Linked DNA regions of Homo sapiens: regions 1 and 3 are each linked to region 2. Evidence: fine-mapped expression QTL. A gene starts in region 2. Each other region holds a variant in brackets. All regions are shown on one strand. Distances are between the middles of the regions.

Region 1 (5,643 bases), 34 kb after region 2:
GGGGTTGGGGGTAAGGTAATAGATTAACAGCATCCCAAGGCAGAAGAATTTCTCTTAGTACAGAACAAAATGGAGTCTCCTATGTCTACTTCTTTCTACACAGACACAGTAACAATCTGATCTCTCTTTCTTTTCCCCACATTTCCCCCTTTTCTTTTCGACAAAACCGCCATCGTCATCATGGCCCGTTCTTGATGGTCGCTGTCTCTTTGGAGCTGTTGGGTACACCTGCAGAAAGGCTGTCACTTCACACTTGGAAGATTGCACAGCAGCCAGGCAGAGGCGCTTCTCACTCCCCAGACGGGGCAGCCGGGCAGAGGCGCTCCTCACTCCCCAGACAGGGCAGCCAGGCAGAGGCGCTCCTCACCTCCCAGACTATGGGTGGCAGGGCAGAGGTGCTCCTCACTTCCCAGATGATGGGCAGCCGGGCAGAGGTGCTCCTCACTTCCCAGATGATGGGCAGCCGGGCAGAGGCGCTCCTCACTTCCCAGACGGGGCGGCCGGGCAGAGGCACTCCTCACCTCCCAGATGCCTCTTTTATTCTTAAGTGAATTTTCAATTCTGCATAATTTAATCTTTTCCAATTTTTCTAATATTATCTTTGCATAAATTATTATAACCTGTATCAATTATTTTCTATATAAATTTCACATGATGTGATCTGTCAATCAGGTGTTTATTTGTATAATGCAATGAATTTATGTGTATGATGTTCTCTTCTAGCTCTAAAAAAAAAAAAAAAAAAAGAAGCCAGGTGTGGTGGCTCACTCCTGTAATCCCAGCACTTTGGGAGGCCAAGGCGGGTGGATCACGAGATCAGGAGGTCAAGACCATCCTGGCTAACACGATGAAACGCTGTCTCTACTAAAAATACAAAAAATTAGCCGGGCGTGGTGGTGGGCACCTGTAATCCCAGCTACCTGGGAGTCTGAGGCAGGAGAATGGCGTGAACCCAGGAGGCAGAGATTGCAGTGAGCCGAGATTGTGCCACTGCACTCCAGCCTGGGGGACAGAGCAAGACTCTGTCTCAAAAATAAATGAATAAATAAAAATAAAAATAAATTAGCCAAGCATAGTAGTGGGCTCCTGTAATCCCAGCTACTCTGGAGGCTGAGGCAGAGAATTGCTTGAACCTGGGAGGTGGAGGTTGCAGTGAGCCGAGATCACACCACTGCTCTCCAGCCTGGATGACATAGCGAGACTCCGTCTCAAAAAAAAAAAAAAAGAAGAGAGAGAGACCTAAGATGATGTTTCCTCCTCCAGAGGAATTTTTCTTGCTGCTAACGGGGGACACACTCCTTGATATCTTTAAAGGAATTTCGTGTTAGGTGCAGTGCCTCATGCCTATAATCCCAACACTTTGGGAGGCCAAGGCAGGAGGATTGCTTGAGTCAAAGAGTTTGAGACCAGCCTGGGCAACTGGACAACAGACCCTATCTCTACAAAAAAAAAAAAAAAAAAAAAAATTCCTGGGCATGGTGGCACATGCCTGTAGTCCCAGCTATTTGGGAGGATCATTTGAGCCCAGGAAGTTGAGAATGCAGTGAGCCATGATCACACCACTGCACTCCAGCCTGGGCAACAGAGCAAGACCATATCTCAAAAAAAAAAATAAAAATAAAAGGAGATTTCAGGGCTGAAGAATGTTCTGGGCTTTCCAAACATCTTGAAGTCCACTGCAATTTGTGGGAAGGCTGATTTTCTTTTTGTTCATGCTACCTGTACAGAATCTTCCAAGGGTCCGGTCAAGGCAGAGGTATCCTGGTCCATCTCATCCATGGGCCACAGAGGTCTCTTTCTGCCCCATCATCCCTGCAACACCCTTAAAAGCAAACCTCAGCCTATTACCTCTCTCAGGTCAGCCTGAGTCTCCAGAGCAAAGGCAGCCTCATACGTTGTGCTGACATGGAATTCCCATTCTTTTTACATCATACCCCAGTGATCACTGTCTTATTATTTATGTGCTTAGAAAGAATGTTGAAAGTATTTTTATTTTTTTCGAGACAGAGTCTCACTCTGTCACCCAGGCTGTAGTGCATTGATGCATCTTGGCCCACTGCAACATCCACCTCCTGGGTTCAAGTGATTCTCATGCCTCAGCCTCCCCAGTAGCTGGGATTACAGGCATGTGCCACAAAGCCTGGCTATTTTTTGTATTTTTGGTAGAGATGGGGTTTCACCATGTTGGCCAACCTGGTCTCAAACTCCTGACCTCATGTGATCCGCCTGCCTCGGCCTCCCAAAGTGCTGATATTACAGGCAAGAGCCACTGCACCCAGCCTAAAATATTTTTTTCAGCTTTGTCCATTTTCTTTATTACACAGGTTGATCAAAATTATCTTGTCTACTTTTAATGGAATAATCCCCTACACGAGCAAAAGCAGAAGTTGTCTAAATGTCAAAATATAGGATATGGGTAAACCCAAATGCAGTTTTGAAAAGTGGAAAAATATTTGGCCATTAAGCATATTTTCAAGATAGAATGGGGCATGGAAAGAGTTCACAGCATATCACAAAATTTTAAATGCAAGTTACACAAGAACATTGGCTGGGTACAGTGGCTCACCCCTGTAATCCTAGCACTTTGGGAGGCTGAGCCAGGTGGATCACTTGAGGTCGGGAGTTTGAGACCAGCATGGCCAACATGGTGAAACCCTGTCTCTACCAACTCTACTAAAAATACAAAAATTAGCCGGGCATGGTGGTGAGCACCTGTAATCCCAGCTACTTGGGAGGCTTAGGCAGGAGAATCGCGTGAACCCAGAGGGCAGAGGTTGCAGTGAACCGAGACCACACCAATACACTCCAGCCTGGGCACTGGGCAACAGAGCAAGACTCTGTCTCAAAAAAGAAAG[A/C]ATATTTAAGACATGATCTCATTTTTTTATAAGTATACATATACCCTAAAATCTAAACTGAAGTGTAAGAAACAAAGAAAAATTCAATCAATACAAAACAATTACTTGGGCCAGGCACAGTGGTTTGTGCCAGTAATCCCAGCACTTTGTGAGGCTGAAGCAGGAGGATCACTTGAGGCCAGGAGTTCAAGACCAGCCTGGCCAACATGGTGAAACCCCGTCTCTACTAAAAATACAAAAATTAGCTGGGTGTGATGGTGCAGACCTATAATCCCAGCTACTCAAGAGGCTGAGGCATGAGAATCATTTGACTCCAGGAAACTCATCACAGCCTTGACCTCCGCAGCTCAAGTGATCCTCCCACCTCAGCCTTCCAGTATGATTGCTTGGTGCTAGCACAGCCTTGTTAATCCTGAGCCCAGGGCCACTGTGTTAGCCCATTATCGCATTGCCATAAAGGAACAGCTGAGGCTGGTAATTTATGAAAAGAGGCTTACTTGGCTCATGGTTCTGCAGGCTGTACAGGAAGCATGGTGCCAGCATCTGCTCAGCTTCTGCTGAGGGCTTCAGGAAGCTTCCAATGATGCTGGAAGGCAAAGGGTGAGCCAGTGCATCACATGGCAAGAGAGGAAGAAGAGAGACCTGAGGAAGGAGGGGCCAAACTCTTTAAAACAACCGGCACTCAGCTCTCCAGAGAACTGACCAAGAACTCACTCATCACCAAGGGAATGGTGCTAAGCCATTCATGAGGGATCCGCCCCCATGATCCAGTACCTCACTAGGCCCGACCTCTGACAGTGGAGGTCATATTTCAACATGAAATGTGGAGGGGACACACATCCTGACCATATCAGCCATGAACCCAGGAACTATCAATGCTGAGGAAGACATGAGGGCCCTAACACTCCACGGAGACTGAGTGTGGTTCCTAATCTCTCTCAATTTCCCTTTCTCTTTAACAGAATGTTACTCTGAGACCACAGAACATGATGGCACCCAGGCGCTAAGCTGTACTTGTGCAGCCTTAACATCTGAGCTCCCTCTCCTGGACCCACTGAGCACGAGGCAGGGGGCACACATTAGACAAGTAATAATGGTTTGTTCAAGGCTTAGTTCCACTCTTCCAGATATAGATAATTCTACCCACTTATAGATGAAGAGATAGAGGCTCCAATGGGAGGAGAAAAGGCTGAGTAATTGGGGCCTGAAAGGCTCATTTTAAGCTTTTGTTATGGACTGAATGTTTGCGTCTCCTATGTTGAAGTCATAATCCCCAATACAGCTGTATTTGGAGATTCTGCCTCCAAATTACATCCTCAATTAAGGATGCAACTAAGGTAAAATGAGGTCATAAGGGTGGCATCCGGCTCTGATAGGATTGGTATCCTTATAGGGAGAGACATCAGGGAGCTCTCTGTCTCTCTCTCTCTCTGCACTGAAGCACCAAAGAAAGGCTATGTGAGACCAGGCACAGTGGCTCACACCCAAAATCCAGCACTTTGGAAGGCTGAGGCAGGTGGATGGCTTGAGGCTAGGAGTTCAAGACTAGCCTGCCCAACATGAAGAAACCCCCTCTCTAATAAAAATACAAAAATTAGCTAGGTGTGGTGGCACATGCCTATAATCCCATTACTCAGGAGGTTGAGGCAAGAGAATCACTTGAACCTGGGAAGCAGAGTTGCAGTGAGTCAAGATTGTGCCACTGCACTGCAGCCTGGGTGACAGAGCAAGACTCTTTTTTTTTTTTTTTTTTTGAGATGGAGTCTCACTCTGTCACCCATGCTGGAGTGCAGTGGTGCGATCTCAGCTCACTGCAAGCTCCACCTCCCAGGTTCATGCCATTCTCCTGCCTCAGCCTCCCGAGTAGCTGGGATTACAGGCATCCACCACCACACCTGGCTAATTTTTTTTGTATTTTTAGTAGAGATGGGATTTCACCATGTCAGCCAGGATGGTCTCAATCTCCTGACATCGTGATCCACCCACCTCAGCCTCCCAAAGTGCTGGGATTACAGGCATGAGCCACCGCACCCAGCCAAGATTCTGTCTTAAAACAAGAAAGAAAGAGAGAGAGAGAGAAAGAAGAAAGAAAGAGAGAGAAGGAAGGAAAGAAGGAAGGAAGGAAGGAAGGAAAAAAGGAAAGAAGGCAAAGAGACAAAGAGGAGGCTCATGCATGTAATCCCAGCACTTTGGGAGGCTGAGGCAGGTGGATCACCTGAAGTCAGGAGCTCCAGACCAGCCTGGCCAACACAGTGAAACCCTGTCTATATTAAAAATACAAAAATTAGTTGGGCATGATGGCTCACGCCTGTAATCCCAGCTACTCAGAAGGCTGAGGCAGGAGAATTGCTTGAACCTGGGAGGTGGAAGTTGTGGTGAGCCAAGATGGCACCACTACACTCCAGCCTGTGAGACAGAGCAAGACTCTGAAAAAAAGAAAGAGAAGAGAAGAGAAGGAGGGGAAGGAAGGGAAGGAGAGAGAAAGAAAGAAGAAAGAGAGAGAAAAAAGAGAAAGAAAGAAAAGAAAGAAGGAAGGAAAAATATCGGGGGAAACAGCCCCCAATATTTCAATGTAGATTCTTTCTATTTTCCATAAGTGATGGCTGGCTGAGAAATAAAGGAAAGAGTACAAAGAGAGGAATTTTACAGCTGGGCCTCTGGGGGTGATATCACATATCGATAGGACTGTGATGTCCACTTGAGCCACAAAACCAGCAAGTTTTTATTAAGGATTTCAAAAGGGGAGGGGGTGTACGAATAGGGAGTAGGTCACAAAGATCACATGCTT
Region 2 (5,643 bases):
TATATCCCAAAGAAAAGGAATCAATATACTAAAGAGCTATCTGCATTCCCATGTTTACTGCAACAATATTCACAATATCCAAAATATGGAATCAACCTAAGTGGCCATCAATGGATGAATGGATAAAGAAATGTGGTGTATGTACATAACGGAATATTATTCAGTCATAAACAAGAATGAAATCCTGTCATTTGCAGCAATATGGGTGGAACTAGAGGCCATGATGTTAAGTAAATAAGCCAAGCACAAAAAGACAAATATTGCATATTCTCACTCATACGTGGGAGCTAAACAAAAAAACAAGTGGATTTCATGAAGATAGAGAGTAGATTGGTGGTAACCAGAGTTCAGAAAGAGTAGAGGTAGGGGTCTGAATAGAGGCTGGTTAAGGGGTATGTATTAGTCTTTTTTCACACTGCTATAAAAAAATGCCTGAGACTGGGTAATTTATAAAGAAAAGAGGTTTAATTGACTCACACTTCCACATGGCTGGGGAGGCCTCAGGAAACTTACAATCATGTTGGAAGAAGAAGCAGTCACCTTCTTCACAAGGTGGCAGGAGAGAGAAGAACAAAGGAGGAACTTCCAAACATATCTCACAAACCATCAGATCTTGTGAGAGCTCACTCACTGTCATGAGAACACCATGGGGGAAACTGCCCCTTGTGATCCAATCACCTCCCTCCCTCCACTTGTGGGAATTACAGGTCCCTCCCTCAACACGTGGGAATTACAATTCAAGATGAGATTTGGGTGGGGACACAGAGCCAAAACATACCAAGGTGTAATACACAGTTAGACAGAAAAAATAAGACCTGGTGTTCAATAAACCAGTAGGTTAGCTATGGTTAACATTAACCTACTGTACATTTCAAAATAGCCAGAAGAGAATCATTTGAATATTTCCGGCATACAGAAAAGACAAATACTTGGCGATAGATATCCCAATTTCCCTGCTTTGATCTTTACACATAATATTAATCAAATTATCACATGTACCCCCAAAATATGTGCATCTATTATATACCAATTTTTAAAATTAAGTTAAAAATTAAATTTTGGGTTTTGCATGTGAAAAAAGAGAGAATATGGGAGAAAAGAAATTGGAAACATCCCTTAGGGACAATTTTTTTAGGAGTTTTGCTGTAAAGCAAAGCAGAGAAATGAGGTAGTGGCTGGAGAGAAATAGGGTGCAAGGTAAGGGGTTTTATTTATTTTATGGACAATATTACAGTGTATTCATTAGTATGCTGATAATTCAGTACAGAATGAAAATCTTGAAATACAGAAGAGAGAGAAGGACCTCATTCATGAGAAAGCATTTAACATCCAGGGTGCAAAAGAATTTTCTCATATAGGAACTAGGGCCAGTGACTCAGAATGAAAAGTAGAGCATACAGTTTCTAATGCAGAGAGGAGGGCAGATGTGCCTGTGAGGCGGTATAGAAGTTCTCTTTACTCAGTAACAGAAAGCAAAGTCATCAGCACTCAGTGAGATGGGAGGAGTTGTTGGCGGCTTGAAAAGAGAGTAGAAGACCAGGCATGGTGGCTCAGCCTGTAATCCCAGCACTTTGGGAGGCTGAGGTGGGACGATCGCTTGATCCCAGGAGGTGGAGACCAGCCCGAACAACATGGTGAAACTTCATCTCTTAAAAAAAAAAATACAAAAATTAGCCTGGTGTGGTGGCGCAAGCCTATAGTCCCAGCTACTTAGGAGGCTGAGGTGGGAGGGTTGCTTGTGCCCAGGAAGCAGAGATTGCAGTCAGCCAAGATCGCACTACTGAACTCCAGCCTGGCTCAAAAAAATAAATAAATAAATAATGAAAAGAGAGTAGAACCTGTGAAATAGTCATTTAGGAGAATGGATGGACTAAGAAATGTAGAAGGATAGCCAGGCAGCGTGAAGGGCCCACTTGAACTTAATGGTTATAAACTGAAAATGAAACCAATCATCCCAGCCATGTGGTTTTCTCAAACAACCTCTGCCGTACAGGCGCAGGCCAGGAACTGGATTCAAGCAGATTTGGGTTTCCATCAAGAGAATAAAACCAAGAAAGACTGGGACAAGAGAGTTAAGGGTAACGGCACATACACAGGACTGGCCATAACCATGCTCCATGGCCTCTTAAATTGAGTGAGGAGAGAAGTGAGCACATGAGGAAGTGAAGGTCAGGGCAAGGGTGGTAAATCTAAATAGGGAAAAGCTCTGTGGTTTTCCAATGAAGAATGAGGAGAGGAGTAAGGTCCAAGGGAGACATTTTGTGTTCCCCAGGCAAAAGGTAAGACAGCATCTCTGAGGAGGAGACCGAAGGGGACGTGGGCCTCTCCAAGCATCGCAGGCTGAAAATAATAGTCCCCCAAATATGTCCATGTCCTAACCCCCAGAAGCTGTGGATGTTAATTTCTATGGCAAGAGGGATTTTTTTTGAAATGTGATTAAATTAAGGATCTTGACGTCAAGAGATTATCCCAGATTAGCCAGCTGGGCCTGATGTAATCACAACAGTCGTTATTAGAAGGACCCACGAGGAGCCAGTGCCTGAGCATGTGATGTGATGATGAAGGCAGAGGTTGCAGTCATGCACTTTGAAGATAAAGGAGCGAGCCATAAGCCAAGGAATGCAAATAGTCACTGGGAACTGGAAAAGGCAAAGAAATATTCTCATCTAGAACCTCCAGGAGGAACTAGCCCCACCAACACTGACTTTATAAAGCCCAGTAAAACTTGATTTCAGACTTGGCACCTCCAGAAGTTTAAGAGAATACATGTTTGTTATACTACTAAGTTTGTGTTAATTTGTTGTGACAGCAATTGGAAACTAATACACCAAGGAAGGGGGAGGATGTAGAAGAGAGGTCCAGGCAACATCTCTTTCCTCTCCAAAATAAATCTGAAAGAAAGGAATTGGGAAAAGACCAAATGGGTAGCTCTGTGTCACTCGGTGAGAAGTGAAATAAACGTAAAATCCTGGTATCAACAACCCTTGTGTGCGTTTAGGAGAGTTCTGACTGCTGGGAGCCACTTGTCTAATTCCCTCACCTCCTGTGTTTGTTCCAAGATCCCCTATTTAAAATTGCAAAGTACACCTCCAGTCCTACACACCCACAAACGCACCTCGCCACACCCCGCCCAGCTCTATGCTTTCAGTACCACCTCATGACACACACGACGCCATATATTTACTATATTTATGGATTGCTTGTTTCCCCAACTAGAATAGGGCAGTGACTTTTGTGCAAGCATCTTGAACAGCTCCTGGTACACAGTTGGCTCTCAATTAATATCTGTTAAATGGATGAACTTCAGAGGTGAGATGGAAGATGCCGAATGGCAAATATTCACTTCAGAATGTTTTGAAAGGTAAAGATGAAATTATGGGTATTTACATCCTTTTCCCCCAATAGTATTTTAACAAATGAAAATCACCTTAACAGGTATTCCTAAAATAATTCTTATTTGTTTGTAATAAAAAACGAGGAGGAGGACTTGAATACACGCGTCGCTGACTCAAAGATGGTCCCCTCCGCCCAAGAATCCCGCTCCGCACAGCGCAGAGTTCAGGGGCCCGCGCCGGAAGTGGGCGTGGTTCGCCCGCGGCTTGCTGGGACTTGTATTTCGGGGCCCTAGGCGCGCGAGCGGTCAGCATCCGGAATCTGGCCCCTGCAGGCGTGGGGTTCCACGTGGGAGGTGAGACTGGCCGGGCTTCCCCAGCCGCTGGCAGAGGCGTTCAGGGGTCAGGAAATGGGTGTGCCGCGGGTAAGGCGCTGGGCCGCCGAGCTGCGGAAGCCGGGAGGGCGGCGATGGTAGGGCACGCGACCAGCGGAGGCGCGGCCCGCGGCGGCACGTGTGTCCCGGCGCCGCATTTCCGAGCTGCTGCGCCCCCGGGGCCGGGCTGCGGCCACACCGAAGCCTGTGGGGCCCTGCAGCTGAGCGGCCGCGCCTCCGATGGCCCCTCCTCCCTCCTGGCCGAGCTCTGGCCTGGGCCGGCTGGGGGCTTCGTGGTTGGCCACGCCGGCCTTTTCCTCGCCTGTGACGGGCGTTATTGCAGGGGGGTTTTCGGTGGACGTTAGGCGACGGACGGGGGCTCCTGTAAGAGACTGAGGTTTCTGTCCGCAGCACTGCCTTCGCTGAAAAGAGCTTGCATCTGAGCCCCCGCACCGCAGGAACGAGCCAGGCTCCTGAGAATGAGGTCGGGGAAGGCGTCTTGGGCAACCGAAATCCATCCCGAGAAGCTTCTCCTCTTAACTAGAACTTTAGGACAGAGATCGGGAAAGTCAGAGGAAATGGGCACGGCTTCGAGCTGCCGGCGGCTGCGGAATTTACCTAGCCTCTTGGTTTTGGGGGGAAAACTTGGCTTGTTTAATCGAAAGCCCTGTGGAGAGAGATGAAGGTGGTGACAGAAAATGCTTCACCTCTCACCTGATGGAGGGAGTGTGGGTGGAAGTGACTGAAGAAGCGTCAGAGGCAGGAGCGGAGTAACTTTTTCCCCGCAGTCTTGCTGGACTTGATTTTCATGGCTTTTTCTCTTTCCCTAACTCTGCCTTTCCAGGAATCCATCCCCTCTGGGAGTAAGAAATGACCAGGGTCCGGGTGAGTTGGCGTTCCATTTCTCCTAAAATGCCATCTCCCTGAAATGTCCCTGTGCCATGTGTTGTTTTCTTTATTGTCAGGCCCCCAGTACGGTATTTTATAGCTATGGATGTAGGGACATTAAGATACTAAGGACATGTAGCTAGCAGATGATGTCACCAGGGTCTGCACAGAGAGTTTTCACTGGCCCATCCTGCCTCCAAGAATTTATTCCACTCCTCAGAGCAGTGGGCTGTGCCCTCCTGGGGAGCCTCTCAAAGCCTGCCTTTTCCTGCCAGACATTTCACTCACATTGAAAGTCATTCCAAGCTATTCCATACTCATCCCAGTGCTAAGTGGTCTCAGCAAAACAGATAGAATGATAAACCACGGTGCTTTTCTTCAAGGAGCTTACCATCTTGATGAACATATTATATTACCTGTACACAAAAAAATGCATATTAATAGTGATAATTTATTAACTATGAGTCAAAAACGAGGAAATTCGTTAAATGGCAGCACAGTGGTTACAAAATCACTCTAGAAATGCTTTTCAACTAGGCTATGCATCAGAACTCTCTGTGGTGTTTTTTAAGAACTAAGCTTCCTTCTCTCTTCCAGACCTAGTGAAAGGAGAGTTTCACTCCTTTTTTATTCTGTTGATCTTTGTACATCCAAAGGTTTATTGTGAAATATCTCTCTATACACTATAAGTGTCTCTAGGGTAGGTAAAATGAGTTATTCATCCTTTATACTCAGGTTGATTTGTTCTCTTTCACTAGCATGTCTACATATTTAACTGTTCCAGTAAATTTTAAATTACCAAGTCGTACTTTTTTAAAGAGAGTTTTCAGTTGTCCCCATAAAACCATCTGTAGGAGGTTACCTCAAAATTAACCCTTAGACTCCCAGGGTATTTGAGATGGTCAGCCCCCACTTAGAATCCCATGGTGTTTGAGATGGTCGGCCCCCTCTTTGCCCTGTCCTGGCGTTTTATGGTGGAGAGCTCTAACTCGGCTAACTCTGAGAGAGCCGAAGGAAAGTGCCTTGTCCTTTGTTTCAGAGAGCAGAAG
Region 3 (5,643 bases), 46 kb after region 2:
GGTCATCTACACCAAAACCCCATCTGTAGGTCACCATCATCAAAGATCAAAGGTAGATAAAACCACAAAGATGCAGAGAAACTAGAACAGAAAAGCTAAAAATTCTAAAAATCAGAGTGCTTCTTCTCCTCCAAAGGATTGTGGCTCCTCGCCAGCAATGGAAAAAAGCTGGATGGAGAATGACTTTGACGAGTTGACAGAAGTAGGCTTCAGAAGGTCGGTAATAACAAACTTCTCGGAGCTAAAGGAGGATGTTCAAACCCATCGCAAGGAAGCTAAAAACGTTAAAAAAAAAATTAGACAAATGGCTAACTAGAATAAACAGTGTAGAGAAGACCTTAAATAACCTGATGGAGTTGAAAACCATGGCACGAGAACTTCGTGACGCATGCACAAGCTTCAATAGCCAATTCAATCAAGTGGAAGAAAGGGTATCAATGATTGAAGATCAAATTAATGAAATAAAGCAAGAAGACAAGGTTAGAGAAAAAAGACTAAAAAGAAACGAACAAAGCCTCCAAGAAATATGGGACTATGTGAAAAGACCAAATCTACATCTGATTGGTGTACATGAAAGTGACAAGGAGAATGGAACCAAGTTGGAAAACACTATTCAGGATATTATCCAGGAGAACTTCCCCAACCTAGCAAGGCAGACCAACATTCAAATTCAGGAAATAAAGAGAACACCACAAAGATACTCCGCGAGAAGAGCAACCCCAAGACACATAATTGTCAGATTCACCAAGATTGAAACAAACGAAAAGATGTTAAGGCAGCCAGAGAGAAAGGTCGAGTTACCCACAAAGGGAAGCCCATCAGAGAACAGACCTCTCGGCAGAAACCCTGCAAGCCAGAAGAGAGTGGGGGCCAATATTCAACATTCTTAAAGAAAAGAATTTTCAACCCAGAATTTCATATCCATCTAAGCTTCATAAGTGAAGGAGAAATAAAATCCTTTACAGACAAGCAAATGCTGAGAGATTTTGTCACCACCAGGCCTGCCTTACAAATGCTCCTGAAGGAAGCACTAAACATAGAAAGAAACAACCAGTACCAGCCACTGCAAAAACATGCCAAATTGTAAAGACCATCGATGCTATGAAGAAACTACATCAATTAATGGGCAAAATAACCAGCTAACATCATAATGACAGGATCAAATTCACACATAACAATATTAACCTTAGATGTAAATGGGCTAAATGCTCCAATTAAAAGACACAGACTGGCAAATTGGATAAAGAGTCAAGACCCATCAGTGTGCTGTATTCAGGAGACCCATCTCATGTGCAGAGACACATATAGGCTCAAAATAAAGGGATGGAGGAGATCTACCAAGCAAATGGAAAACAAAAAAAGGCAGGGGTTACAATCCTAGTCTCTGATAAAACAGACTTTAAACCAACAAAGATCAAAAGAGACAAAGAACCCCATTACATAATGGTAAAGGGATCAATTAAACAAGAAAAGCTAACTATCCTAAATATATGTGCACCCAATACAGGAGCATCCACATTCATAAAGCAAGACCTTAGAGACCTACAAAGAGACTTAGACTCCCACACAATAATAATGGGAGACTTTAACACCCCTCTGTCAATATTAGACAGATCAACAAGACAAAAGGTTAACAAGGATATGCAGGACCTGAACTCAGCTCTGCAACAAGCAGACCTAATAGACATCTACAGAACTCTCCAGCCCAAAGCAGCAGAATATACATTCTTCTCATCACCACATAGCACTTATTCTAAAAGTGACCACATAATTGGAAGTACAGCACTCCTCAGCAAATGTAAAAGAAATCACAACAAACTGTGTCTCAGATCACAGTGCAATCAAATTAGAACTCAGGATTAAGAAACTCACTCAAAACCACACAACTACATGGAAACTAAACAACTTGCCCTGGAATGACTACTGGGTAAATAACGAAATGAAGGCAGAAATAAAGATGTTCTTTGAAACCAATGAGAACAAAGACACAACATATCAGAATCTCTAGGACACATTTAAAGCAGTGTGTAGAGGGAAATTTACAGCACTAAATGCCCACAAGAGAAAGCAGGAAAGATCTAAAATCAACACCCTAACATCGCAATTAAAACAATCAGAGAAGCAAGAGCAAACAAATTCAAAAGGTAGCAGAAGGCAAGAAATAACTAAGATCAGAGCAGAACTGAAAAATATAGAGATACAAAAATACCCTTCAAAAAAATCAATGAATCCAGGAGCTGGTTTTTTTTAAAAGAGCAACAAAATCGATAGACCACTAGCAAGACTAATAAAGAAGAAAAGAGAAAAGAATCAAATAGACACAATAAAAAATGATAAAGGGGATATCACCACTGATCTAACAGAAATACAAACTACCACCAGAGAATACTATAAACACCTCTATGCAAATAAACTAGAAAATCTAGAAGAAATGGATAAATTCCTGGACACATACACTCTCCCAAGACTAAACCGGGAAGAAGTTGAATCTCTGAATAGACCAATAACAGGCTCTCAAATTGAGGCAATAATTAATAGCCTACCAACCAAAAAAAGTCCAGGACCAGACGGATTCACAGCTGAATTCTACCACAGCTAGAAAGACGAGCTGGTACCATTCCTTCTGAAACTATTCCAATCAATAGAAAAAGAGGGAATCCTCCCTAACTCATTTTATGAGGCCAGCATCATCCTGATACCAAAGCCTGGCAGAGACACAACAAAAAAAGAGAATTTTAGACCAATATCCCTGATGAACATCAATGCAAAAATCCTCAATAAAATACTGGCAAACTGAATCCAGTAGCACATTAAAAAGCTTATCCACCACGATCAAGTGGGCTTTATCCCTGGGATGCAAGGCTGGTTCAATATATGCAAATCAATAAACATAATCCATCACATAAACAGAACCAACAACAAAAAACCACATGATTATCTCAATAGATGCAGAAAAGGCCTTTGACAAAATTCAACAGCCCTTCATGCTAAAAACTCTCAATAAACTAGGTGTTGATGGA[A/G]CATATCTCAAAATGATAAGAGCTATTTATGACAAACCCACAGCCAATATCATACTTAATGGGCAAAAACTGGAAGCATTCCCTTTGAAAACCAGCACAAGACAGGGATGCCCTCTCTCACCACTCCTATTCAACATAGTGTTGGAAGTTCTGGCCAGGGCAATCAGGCAAGAGAAAGAAAAAAAGGGTATTCAATTAGGATAAGAGGAAATCAAATTGTCCCTGTTTGCAGATGACATTATTGTATATTTAGAAAACCCCATCATCTCAGCCCAAAATTTCCTTAAGCTGATAAGCAACTTCAGCAAAGTCTCAGGACACAAAATCAATGTGCAAAAATCACAAGCATTCCTATACACCAATAACAGACAAACAGAGAGCCAAATTATGAGTGAACTCCTATTCACAATTGCTACAAAGACAATAAAATACCTAGGAATCCAACTTACAAGGGATGTGAAGGACCCCTTCAAGGAGAACTACAAACCACTGCTCAACAAAATAAGAGGACACAAACAAATGGAAGAATATTCCATGCTCATGGATAGGAAGAATCAATATTGTGAAAATGGCCATAATGCCCAAAGTAATTTATAGATTCAATGCCATCCCCATCAAGCTACCAATGACTTTCTTCACAGAATTAGAAAAAACTACTTTAAAGTTCATATAGAACCAAAAAAGAGCCCGCATTGCCAAGACAATCCTAAGCAAAAAAAACAAAGCTGGAGGCATCAAGCTACCTGACTTCAAACTATACTACAAGGCTACAGTAACCAAAACAGCATGGTACTGGTATCAAAACAGATATGTAGACCAATGGAACAGAACAGAGCCCTCAGAAATAACACCACACATCTACAACCATCTGATCTTTGACAAACCTGACAAAAACAAGAAATGGGGAAAGGATTCCCTATTTAATAAATGGTGCTGGGAAAACTGGCTAGCCATATGTAGAAAGCAGAAACTGGATCCCTTCCTTACACCTTATACAAAAATTAATTCAAGATGGATTAAAGACTTAAATGTTAGACCTAAAACCATAAAAAACCCTAGAAGAAAACCTAGGCAATGCCATTCAGGACATTGGCATGGGCAAGGACTTCATGACTAAAACACCAAAAGCAATGGCAACAAAAGCCAAAATTGACAAATGGGATCTAATTAAACTAAAGAGCTTCTGCACAGCAAAAGAAACTACCATCAGAGTGAACAGGCAACCTACAGAATGGGAGAAAATTTTTGCAATCTACCCATCTGATAAAGGGCTAATATCCAGAATCTACAAAGAAGTCAAACAAATTTACAAGAAAAAAAACAAACAACCCCATCAAAAAGTGGGCAAAGGATATGAACAGACACTTCTCAAAAGAAGACATCTGTCTGGGTGCGGTGGCTCATGGCTGTCATCCCAGCACTTTGGGAGGCTGAGGCGGGTGGATCACGAGGTCTGGAGATCGAGACCATCCTGGCTAACATGGTGAAACCCTGTCTCTACTAAAAATACAAAACAAAAAAAATTAGCTGGGCATGGTGGCAAGCGCCGGAGGCTAAGGCAGAAGAATGGCATGAACCCGGGAGGCAGAGCTTGCAGTGAGCCAAGATCACGCCACTGCACTCGAGCCTGGGCAACAGAGCAAGACTCCGTCTCAAAAAAAAAAAAAAAAAGAAGACATCTATGCAGCCAACAGACACATGAAAAAATGCTCATCACCACTGGTCATCAGAGAAATACAAATCAAAACCACAATGAGATACCATTCTTGCCAGTTAGAATGGCAATCATTAAAAAGTCGGGAAACAACAGATGCTGGAGAGGATGTGGAGAAATAGGAACACTTTTACACTGTTGGTGGGAGTGTAAATTAGTTCAAACATTGTGGAAGACAGTGTGGCGATTCCTCAAGGATCTTGAACTAGAATTACCATACGACCCAGCAATCCCATTACTGGGTATATACACCCAAAGGATTATAAATCATGCTACTATAAAGACATATGCACACATATGTTTATTGTGGCACTATTCACAATAATAAAGACTTGGAACCAACCCAAATGTCCATCAATGATAGACTGGATTAAGAAAATTTGGCACATGTACACCATGGAATACTATGCAACCATAAAAAATGATGAGTTCATGTCCTTTGCAGGGACATGGATGAAGCTGGAAACCATCATTCTCAAAAAACTATCACAAGGACAGAAAAGCAAACACCACATGTTCTCACTCATGGGTGGGAATTGAACAATGAGATCACTTGGACACAGGAAGGGGAACATCACACACCAGGGCCTGTCAGGGGATGGGGGGCTGGGGGAGGGATAGCATTAGGAGAAATACCTAATGTAAATGATGAGTTGATGGATGCAGCAAACCAACATGGCACATGTATACCTATGCATCAAACCTGCACATTGTGCACATGTACCCTAGAACTTAAAGTATAATAAAAAAAAAAAAGAAGAAATCCACTACAGAAGGAACCAAGGAATTTAAGCATCAAAATTCCCACCTGCCCCCCACCATTTTTTTGTGAGCCCAGGATGGCTTTGAACTCCCAGGCTCGAGCAATCCTCCCCAGTCAGCCTCCAGATAATTACAGGCATGAGCTAC

Evidence for each region. PIP is the estimated chance that this variant, and not a neighbour inherited with it, causes the effect. A credible set is the group of variants that fine-mapping cannot tell apart.
Region 1: its variant is the best candidate, but not a certain one, in a credible set for the expression of ZNF239 in whole blood (TOPMed, PIP 0.58).
Region 3: its variant is the best candidate, but not a certain one, in a credible set for the expression of ZNF239 in adrenal gland (GTEx, PIP 0.50).

The regions. Positions count from the first base shown.
Region 1 is chr10:43,538,705-43,544,347 of GRCh38, reverse strand. No RefSeq gene overlaps it. Among named protein-coding and RNA genes, the nearest start is that of ZNF239, 33 kb to the left of the region's middle. RefSeq lists an enhancer at 1-154. The variant A/C (reference allele first, on the strand shown) is at 2,856.
Region 2 is chr10:43,572,585-43,578,227 of GRCh38, reverse strand. ZNF239 (zinc finger protein 239) reads left to right here and starts at 3,612. Exons shown (of 4, transcript NM_001099282.2): 1 at 3,612-3,688; 2 at 4,551-4,591. RefSeq lists a silencer at 3,830-3,889.
Region 3 is chr10:43,527,015-43,532,657 of GRCh38, reverse strand. No RefSeq gene overlaps it. Among named protein-coding and RNA genes, the nearest start is that of ZNF239, 45 kb to the left of the region's middle. The variant A/G (reference allele first, on the strand shown) is at 3,021.